2 linked regions of the Homo sapiens genome follow. The protein of the gene in region 1 purifies or fractionates together with the protein of each later gene. This does not show direct contact. Each region holds a gene or a part of one and is shown in the gene's direction. Other genes may lie near its edges. The genes, in order: SSX1 and NCALD.

What was found.
Region 2: the proteins of SSX1 (region 1) and NCALD purify together in Homo sapiens (affinity purification with mass spectrometry; one large-scale study listed by BioGRID and IntAct). This does not show direct contact.

What each region holds. Positions count from the first base shown.
Region 1 is NC_000023.11:48,253,759-48,258,270, forward strand, and holds the start of SSX1 (protein SSX1), read left to right. Parts: upstream 1-1,633; 5' UTR 1,634-1,674; intron 1,675-2,292; exon of another isoform or gene 2,293-2,378; intron 2,379-3,463; 5' UTR 3,464-3,483; coding exon 3,484-3,552; intron 3,553-3,987; coding exon 3,988-4,102; intron 4,103-4,512. UniProt on the Homo sapiens protein: Could act as a modulator of transcription. Plays a role in spermatogenesis.
Region 2 is NC_000008.11:101,784,453-101,788,268, reverse strand, and holds part of NCALD (neurocalcin-delta), read left to right. Parts: intron 1-2,216; exon of another isoform or gene 2,217-2,414; intron 2,415-3,816. UniProt on the Homo sapiens protein: May be involved in the calcium-dependent regulation of rhodopsin phosphorylation. Binds three calcium ions.

The sequences.
Region 1 (4,512 bases):
TGAGGCCAGCAGTTCCTTCCAGATCAGCAGGGACAACATAGCAAGACCCCATCTCTAAAAAAAAATTATTTTAATTAAAAATAAATAAATACATAAATAAAAGCACAGACTTTGGACTCAATTCTATCTTGGGGGTGAATCCCAGCTCTGTCACCCACTGACTATGTGACTTTGAGCAGACTGCTTAATTCTCTTGAGCCTCAGTCTCAACATCTGCATACTGGGGATGATAATAGTATTTAACTCCAGAGAAGGTTGTGAAAATTAATGGGAAGATGCACATAAAAGGCTTTGTGCTGGGCTCAAGGGCCATTGCTCTGTTCCTGCCCTAAGAGAGCTTGCTGTAATCCTGGGAGGATCTTAGAGAGATCAGGGCTGTAGGTGGAAAGCCCAGAGAGGAATGGGGACTTGTTGGAGGTACTAGGGATGGGGGTAGGGGAAACTTCTTAGACAAATTGACTTATGAGCTCCCTGATGAACACAGTGGGCCCTAATTACATACTCTTTTTAATACTATTATTATAAATATTATTAATATCAATGGGTAAAATATATTTCTGCTTCTTTGGTCTTTTAGAAAAAAACATATATGGAAGTGTAGAAGTGTTTTTTTTTGTTTAAATTTCTTTTTTAAAAATTTTTTATAGAGATGGGGGTCTCACTATGTATCCCAGATTGTTCTGGAACTCCTGGCCTCAAGTGATCCTTCCACCTCCTGCCTCAGCCTCTCAAAGTGTTGGGATTACAGGCATGAGCCACTGGGACTGGCTCATTGAAATTTTTCTTTCTTTCTCTTTCTCTCTCTCTCTCTTTTTAAAGACAAGATCTCGCTCTGTGGCCCAGGTAGGCAGGAGTAGCCAGATCATGGCTCACTGCAACCTCGTACTCCTGGGCTCAAGCTATCCTCCTACCTCAGCCTCCTGAGTAACGGACTACAGGCACACCACCCCACCTCGCTAATTTTATTTATTTTTTTTGTAGAGAAAAGAGACAGGGTATTGCTCTGTTGCCCAGGGTGGGGTGCAGTGGCATGATCATGGCTCACTGCAACCTCTGCCTCCCAGGTTCAAGTGATCCTCCAGCTGTGGCCTCCCTAAGTGCTGGGATTACAACCGTGAGCCGCCGCACCGGCCCAAATTTCTTACGTCACTACAGAGTTCCTAGGAAAAAATCCCATACCTGAAAAAGATAGAAACTGACAGGAAGGATTTGAGATGATGACCTGCTTCATATACACTCCTTATTAAAACTGGATAACAATGCACCACCGAGGAGGTGGGGAGGGATAGGAAAAATGAAAAGAGAAAATCAGCGCATGCGTACTCTGATTTGGGAAGACTCCAAAGAGAAAATCAGAGCATGCGTACTCTGAACTTGGAGTAGCCAATCCCAGGGGATGCTTTAGGCGGGAAAGTCAGAGTTTCTGCCTCCATTTTGAGAAGGTTCTGTCCCTAGAGCCTAGACTGATAGACCCCACATCAGCTTGGCTTGTCCCGCCTACTGTTCTGACTTCTGATTGGCCAGATGGAGTTCACTAACTGCCCTGATTGGTCCATCATCCTGGAGCAATGACATTGCAGAATATTTTCTCCTCCTCCAGCCACACTTTGTCACCAACTGCTGCCAACTCGCCACCACTGCTGCCGACCTCGCAACCACTGCTTTGTCTCTGAAGTAGGTTCTCTTTAAGGGACACCCTAGATGGGCTAATCGGGGCAGATAGAAAAGGAGGAAGCCTCTGTAGGGCCGTCAAGTGCTTGGGGTTCCGAAAATCTTGAGGACTGAAAGACAACTAATGCCTTTCAGGACGATCATCATGGAGGATCCTCCCGCCTCGGCCTTGGGTCTACAGGCCTGTATTATCCCACCCCTGTTTTTTTTTTTTTTTTTTTAGTAGAGACGGGGATTTGTTATGTTGACCAGGCTGGCCTCAACCGCCTGGGCTCAAGCAATCCTCCCGCCTTGGCCTCGGGACTACAGGCACGAACCACCCCACCCTCACTAATTTTTTTTATTTTTTATTTTTTTAGTACAGACGGTTTTGCTATGTTGGCCAGGCTGGCCTCTGCCGCCTGGGCTTAAGCAATCCTTCCGCCTCGGCCCTGGGACTACAGAAGTGCACCATCCTGCCCATGCTTTTTTTTTTTTTTTTTTTAGTAGAAACCAGGTTTCACTATGTTGGCCAGGCTGGCCTCAACCTCCTGGGCTCAAGCGATCCTCACACCTTGGCCTCAGGACTACAGATGTGTGCCATTCCGCCCCTGCTAGTTTTGTTGTTGTTGTTCTTTTTAGTAGAGACAGGGTTTCCTTATGTTGGCCGAACTGGGCTTGACCTCCTCGGCTCAAGTGATCCTCCCACCTCGGCCTCGGAACTACAGGCAAGAACCACCTCGCTGATGTTATTATTTTTGTTGTTATTATTAGTAGTAGAAATGGGGTTTTGCTATGTTGGCCAGGCTGGCCTCAACCTCCTGGGCTCAAGAGATCCTCTTGCCTCGGCCTCGGAACTACAGGCGAGCACCACCCCGCCCCCACTAATACTTTTTATTTTATTTTATTTTTTTTAGTAGAGGGTTTTTCTAGGTTGGCTAGGCTGGTATCAACCTCGTGGGCTCAAGCGATCCGCCCCCCCTTGGCCAAAGAGCTGAGATGTTATAGGCCTGTGCCACCGCCCCCAGCTAATTTTTTGTGTGGTTGTTTTTTTTTTTTTTTTTTTTTTTTTGTAGAGATGAGGGGTTTGCTATGTTTCCCAGGCTGGTCTCAACCTCCTGGGCTCAAGAGATCTGCACGCCTCGGCCTCCCAAAATGCTGGGATTACAGGCATGAGCCACTGCGCCTGGCCGATTGCTGCAAATTGAAACACCCCACATTTTCTCTAAGTGATGGCAGGCTCTTGTAATCTCAGAGATTCTAGCTCTCTTCCTTCTAATAATTTACAAATAACCCAGTAATAGCTTCTAAATCTGTTCATATTAGTGAAGGTCATTTCTCTTCAACAGAACAGAACCCCCCCATCCCTCTGCCTGATCAGATCCATCACCAGAAAGACCACGTTATGTCTGGGACTCACTTCCCTCCCTTTATTTATTGAGTGGGGGTGTCAGAACGCCCCCATTCAATAAAATTACACAGTCACGTCCCTGCCTCCCCAGCAAGGGTCTGTACATCTTTCAGGGTAAGCCTAGCCCCAGGGAAACTACTAACAACACTAGCCAACCCCCTCCCAAAGACTCAAGGCTGCTAGGAAACCTGTCATCCCCAAGCAATACTTCTCCCAGAGACTCCAGGCTCCCTGTTTTCATCTGACTTCTCTCCATGTCCTTACCCATGGACAGGTAAGCCCCGAATGGAGAAATGCAACCCCTAATTCCAGGTGACTGAGTGTGGCCGGGCTTCACTGATTTCTCCCTCCATAGGACCAAGGGTCCTGTAGCTAGAAAGTCTCAGGCTGTTTCTCTTGCAGGTGAGACTGCTCCTGGTGCCATGAACGGAGACGACACCTTTGCAAAGAGACCCAGGGATGATGCTAAAGCATCAGAGAAGAGAAGCAAGGTGACGTGACCTGGAGGGGGCAGAGCAGTGGTCCAGGGGACAGAGTAGGGTGACCAGGTTTCTGAGGAGGGGAGGACAGAGGTACTGGGGACAAGGAGCAGGGTCTCGGGGGAGATCTGGACCCTTGGGAGCCTCCCACCTGTGTTCTGTCATCACCTAGCATCCCTGGAGACAAGTCTCTGACCTTGCTCTACATTTGGTAACTCTCAGTCCATTCTGGAAGGTGGGAAGAGAGCCAGACAGCAGCATTAAAGCCCTAATGTGTGCCACGGGAGAAGCTAGGGTAGGTCCCCCATGGTCTCTCAGTTAGCCATGGCATCAACCAGGACGGATTATCATCCTCACTTCCCAGATCCAGCACACAGGAAGCGGCTCCAGCTGAATGGCAGACATACCTAGCTGAGTCACTGACAAATTTTATTTTATTTTTTTTAGGCCTTTGATGATATTGCCACATACTTCTCTAAGAAAGAGTGGAAAAAGATGAAATACTCGGAGAAAATCAGCTATGTGTATATGAAGAGAAACTATAAGGCCATGACTAAACTAGGTAACAGAAAGTTCTAGGAACAGACAAGTCTGGGGATACATGAGCATCCCTTTTCCTGCTTTGGCTACTTCTTAGGCTGCAGAAAGTACCCCACATTTTCCTTTTGTGCAGGGAAAAATCGCAAGGCAGCTTCTGGGGGTTCTGCTCTTCTGTATCCTGTCAGAGCTGAGGGCAGGGACTGGCCATAGTGGAGCTTGTACCTGGACCTTGCACTTTTCTCTCCCTTAGGCGTCTGTTCTGATCAGCCCAGCTGTCTCTGTGGCATTGCAGCACACCTCCCACCCTACCTTCCTCCTCTCAGCTTGTCTCTTTCTCTCTCTCTCCCTTTTTTTTTTTTTTTTTTTTTTTTGAGTCAGAGTCTCACTCTGTCACCTAGGCTAGAGTGTAGTAGTGCAATCATAGCTCAATGC
Region 2 (3,816 bases), on another chromosome or scaffold:
ATTTTATCCACCCCTGAGTCAATTGATATGTACGTTAGTGATGCCAAAAGGTGATAGAACTGCACTGGACAAAACCCATCACCCCATTTCCACATTCGGTTCCACCGCATCGGATTTTATTCTTCGAGTGTGTGAATTTTGCAATGTTCTCTAAATTCTGCATGAAAAGGAATAATATGTTCACATAGCTACCAAATTGTAACTTTCTTTTATTTTCCTCCTTGAGATCCATTAACAACAGTCTTATGTCCCCTGGATTGGGAAACCCTTACCTGGTTAGACAGGGGTTAAGAGGAAAACTCATAGTGTTAGTACAAGTTATGCGAGTTAAAACCATGGGCCACAGAAGGTAGTTCATGTGCTCATAGCATTTGAAGCAAGCATTAAAGAATGCATGTGGCTTTCCAGCTTAATGTAAAGCACATACACGTGTGAATTGATCAATTGTCATGTTAATTCCAGATACTCAAGAGAGAGCCCTAAAGGTTTATCTGACAGAGGTCTCTAGGATGAGGCATGTTTGAAATTAAGCTGGAAGTGGAGACACTTCCCAAGTATCTGAATGCAGAACCTTATTTGGCTTATTGGATATTTAAGACCAATACAGGGGGTATTAATAGTATTGTTTAGTGTGACTTATGTAAGTAGTTGTCTCATTCAACATGTTTCTTTAAATGTGCAGAAAATAGTGCCTGATATTCCTCTCCAAACCAACAGCGTAACTTTGCAGTTGGTCAGCTGCCGTCACAGCCCTATATTCAGAATGTCCAAAGTCATCCTTTCTATGACATCAACACCCACTGTCTCCGCGTAAGAGAATGGGAGCTATGACATTTTGCACAAGCTGTTGTTTAAATTCAATCCAAATCCCTCGCATTTGAAATGGAAGCTTAGCAATTTGTCTTCGTGTGTTCTCAAAGGAATTACGAAAGAGATGTTCTCAAACGTTTCTTATTCTTTGGATTAGAAAAGAACACTTGCCTTGGGAGCTTTGAGTCTCTAGCAACTTGATAAAGAAACTTGGAAAAAGTTTAAAATCTCTGACTCCAGGCTGTACTGTTTGCTTCTCAAGCCAGGTGTTTGAAACTTTTCAAAAAGGAATGTGCCATTATTTTTCATAAAATCCACATTTATTTAACTGGTGCTTCATGATGGAAATCTAACTAGAAATAGCATTCCAAAATGTAGTATTTTTTATTGTTTTCAGAAGTGATACCATAAAAGTTAATGTTCACTAAGATTTTGATATAAAAATTATATGATAAATATTGAAATTCACTGGAGCCAAACTAAAAACAGTCTGCCCTTTTTATCTCAGTAGTGAACTTTAGGGGGTTTTTTGCATGTATTTTCATAAGTGCCTTTAAATAAAGACACGGCATCCCTTTAAAATTTAGTTTACATTAATGTAAACCAGAATATTCTCAGGTCACAATGCAGTTTTATATTTGATTTGTAGGAAATAAATCTCTAGCCTGAAAGACATTCCAGCTGTTGCCTGTCTTCATGGGAGGATTGTTCACATTTTCTGAATCTCTCCCAGTGACTGCAGGAAGACCAAAGGCTGCACATTGCTTTTATGCAAGGATGAATTTTTTTAAAAGATGATTTTGGATTTTGTTTGCTTTAATGAATTTAAGCCCTATCTATTAGAGGTAAATGTCAAGAAAACTGTTGTGTTCTTTGGCTATCTGCTCTGCTGACTCCCACAGACTTTGATATGATTCATATAACTCAAACCATGATCAGGTTTGTGACGACCATATTTACAATATCGTTGGAGATCAAAAATAGCATCTCACAAAAGTTTCCCCGTCCTATACCTTCCCACATCTTATCATGGATCATGTGCAGCACAGTCACTCAATTGGCGAACATTTATTAACGGACTACTGCATTCACAGTATTATAGTAGGCATGTGAGGTCCTCCCCTGATGGGATCCTCAAGTGAGATATGCTGCTGGCATAGAGAACCCAAGGGCCTTTATGGACCCTGGCTTTTGTTTGCTTGAGCTTTTATTCAAACATTCAGTCTTTCATGCATTCAGCAAATTTTGAGCACATACTACGTGTCAGGCATTGAGCCAGACCCCAGGGTTGCTATAAGGTACAAGACAGGGCAGGTCCCTTCCATCATGGAATATGCAGTCTAACTATGTAGAGAACTTGCCCAGAGACCTATATGTACTATTAACTGGGGTTCTCTTTCCCACAGCCACACTGGCCACTGCAGTCCAAAAGAGAATTCTAAAAGGAAACAGTACAAAACAGAACATCAAAACAAAACAGACAAACAACCTGGGAACCATTAGGTTTTACACCAGAGTGAAACCCCAGAAGAGACATTCTGCAGCTGGTGAACAGCCGGCCTCATTTGTGAGCAATCTGTTCCCATCAGTGTCAGGGATTCCAGGTCGGTATGCTCAGTCCTATTCCCAGTTGGCCAGAGGCTATTTGTCCTCTAGTTCAGAAGACAAATGAGACTGGTAGGGACCGACCTAGAGAGTATTTTCTTTTATGCAAATACCCTGTTTCATACAAATAATGAAAACCATTGTATTTTATGAAAGGAGTCTTTAAATTAGTGATATTTCCAAAAATATCTCTCCCGTCTTCCCTGTACTAACCCAGTCAGGACAGGGTCACTGCTGTAATAAATAGCCCCCAATCTTAATGGCATAATCCAACACTGTTCATTTTTCACTCACCCAGAAATCAGGATTGGGCGAAGGGCTCTGCTCCACACAGTCCTCCAGGGACTCAGGCTCCTTCTATCTAGTTAAACTGATCAGGGGCCTGTTTCTACCACTTGCTAGTGATACTCTGAGCAAGTTACCTAAATCAGAGTTTTCTTATGTGAATAATATTAGGGCATCCCTCTTGGATTTTTGAGTCAATTTACTTGGCATAGAAACTGACAGGTATTAGGTACTCAATAATGTGAACTGCTGTTATTAATCTTCTACTTCTGGTAGTGCTGCCACCACCATCCCCCGAGGAGGCAGGAAGAATCCGTCAGAATTGGAAGAGTATTATAATAATAGCTAACACTTAGGAAGCTGGATAGTCTTCAAAGTTCTTTTCAAAGTAACTATTTTTTAACAACATTCTAGTTTTATAAATGAGGAAATTGAGGCACAGAGAGCTTAAACAAATTGCTGAGTGTCACACAAGTATACAATAGAGCTCTAGGCATTTGGCTTCAGAGTCCTGGCTCTTTATTCACTATACTATATTGCCTTTCAACTTGGAATATACAGCAGAGCCTCAAATACCGTCATTTCATTCAACATCGTTTTGTTGTAATGTTAATGAGAAAAAATAATTGGTTTTGTTGTCAATGATGTTGTGAGGACTTACTATTATATATTGTATTTTCCCCAGAATTAATGTTATATGTTGTGGCAGATTGTATTCAAAAATAGCCTTACAATTGAATCCATTACCACATTAAAAAAATTTTTTTTTAGAGATGGGTTCTCACTCTGTTGCCCAGGCTGAAGTGCAGTGGTGTAATCATAGCTCACTGTAACCTCAAACCTGGGCTCAAGCAATCATCCCACCTCAGCTGCTTGAGTAGCCAGGACTATAGGCGTATGCCACCATGCCCAGCTAAATTTTTGTTTTTATTTTTATAGACTTGGGGTCTCACTATGTTGCCCAGGCTGGTCTTGAACTCCTGTCCTCAAGAGATCCTCCCACCTTGGCTTCCCAAAGGGCTGAGATTACAGGCATGAGCCACTGCATTACCATATGTTCTTCTAGAATCTTGCTCCTCTCCATCAGGAGGTGAAGTCTATTGCCCCTCCCTTTGA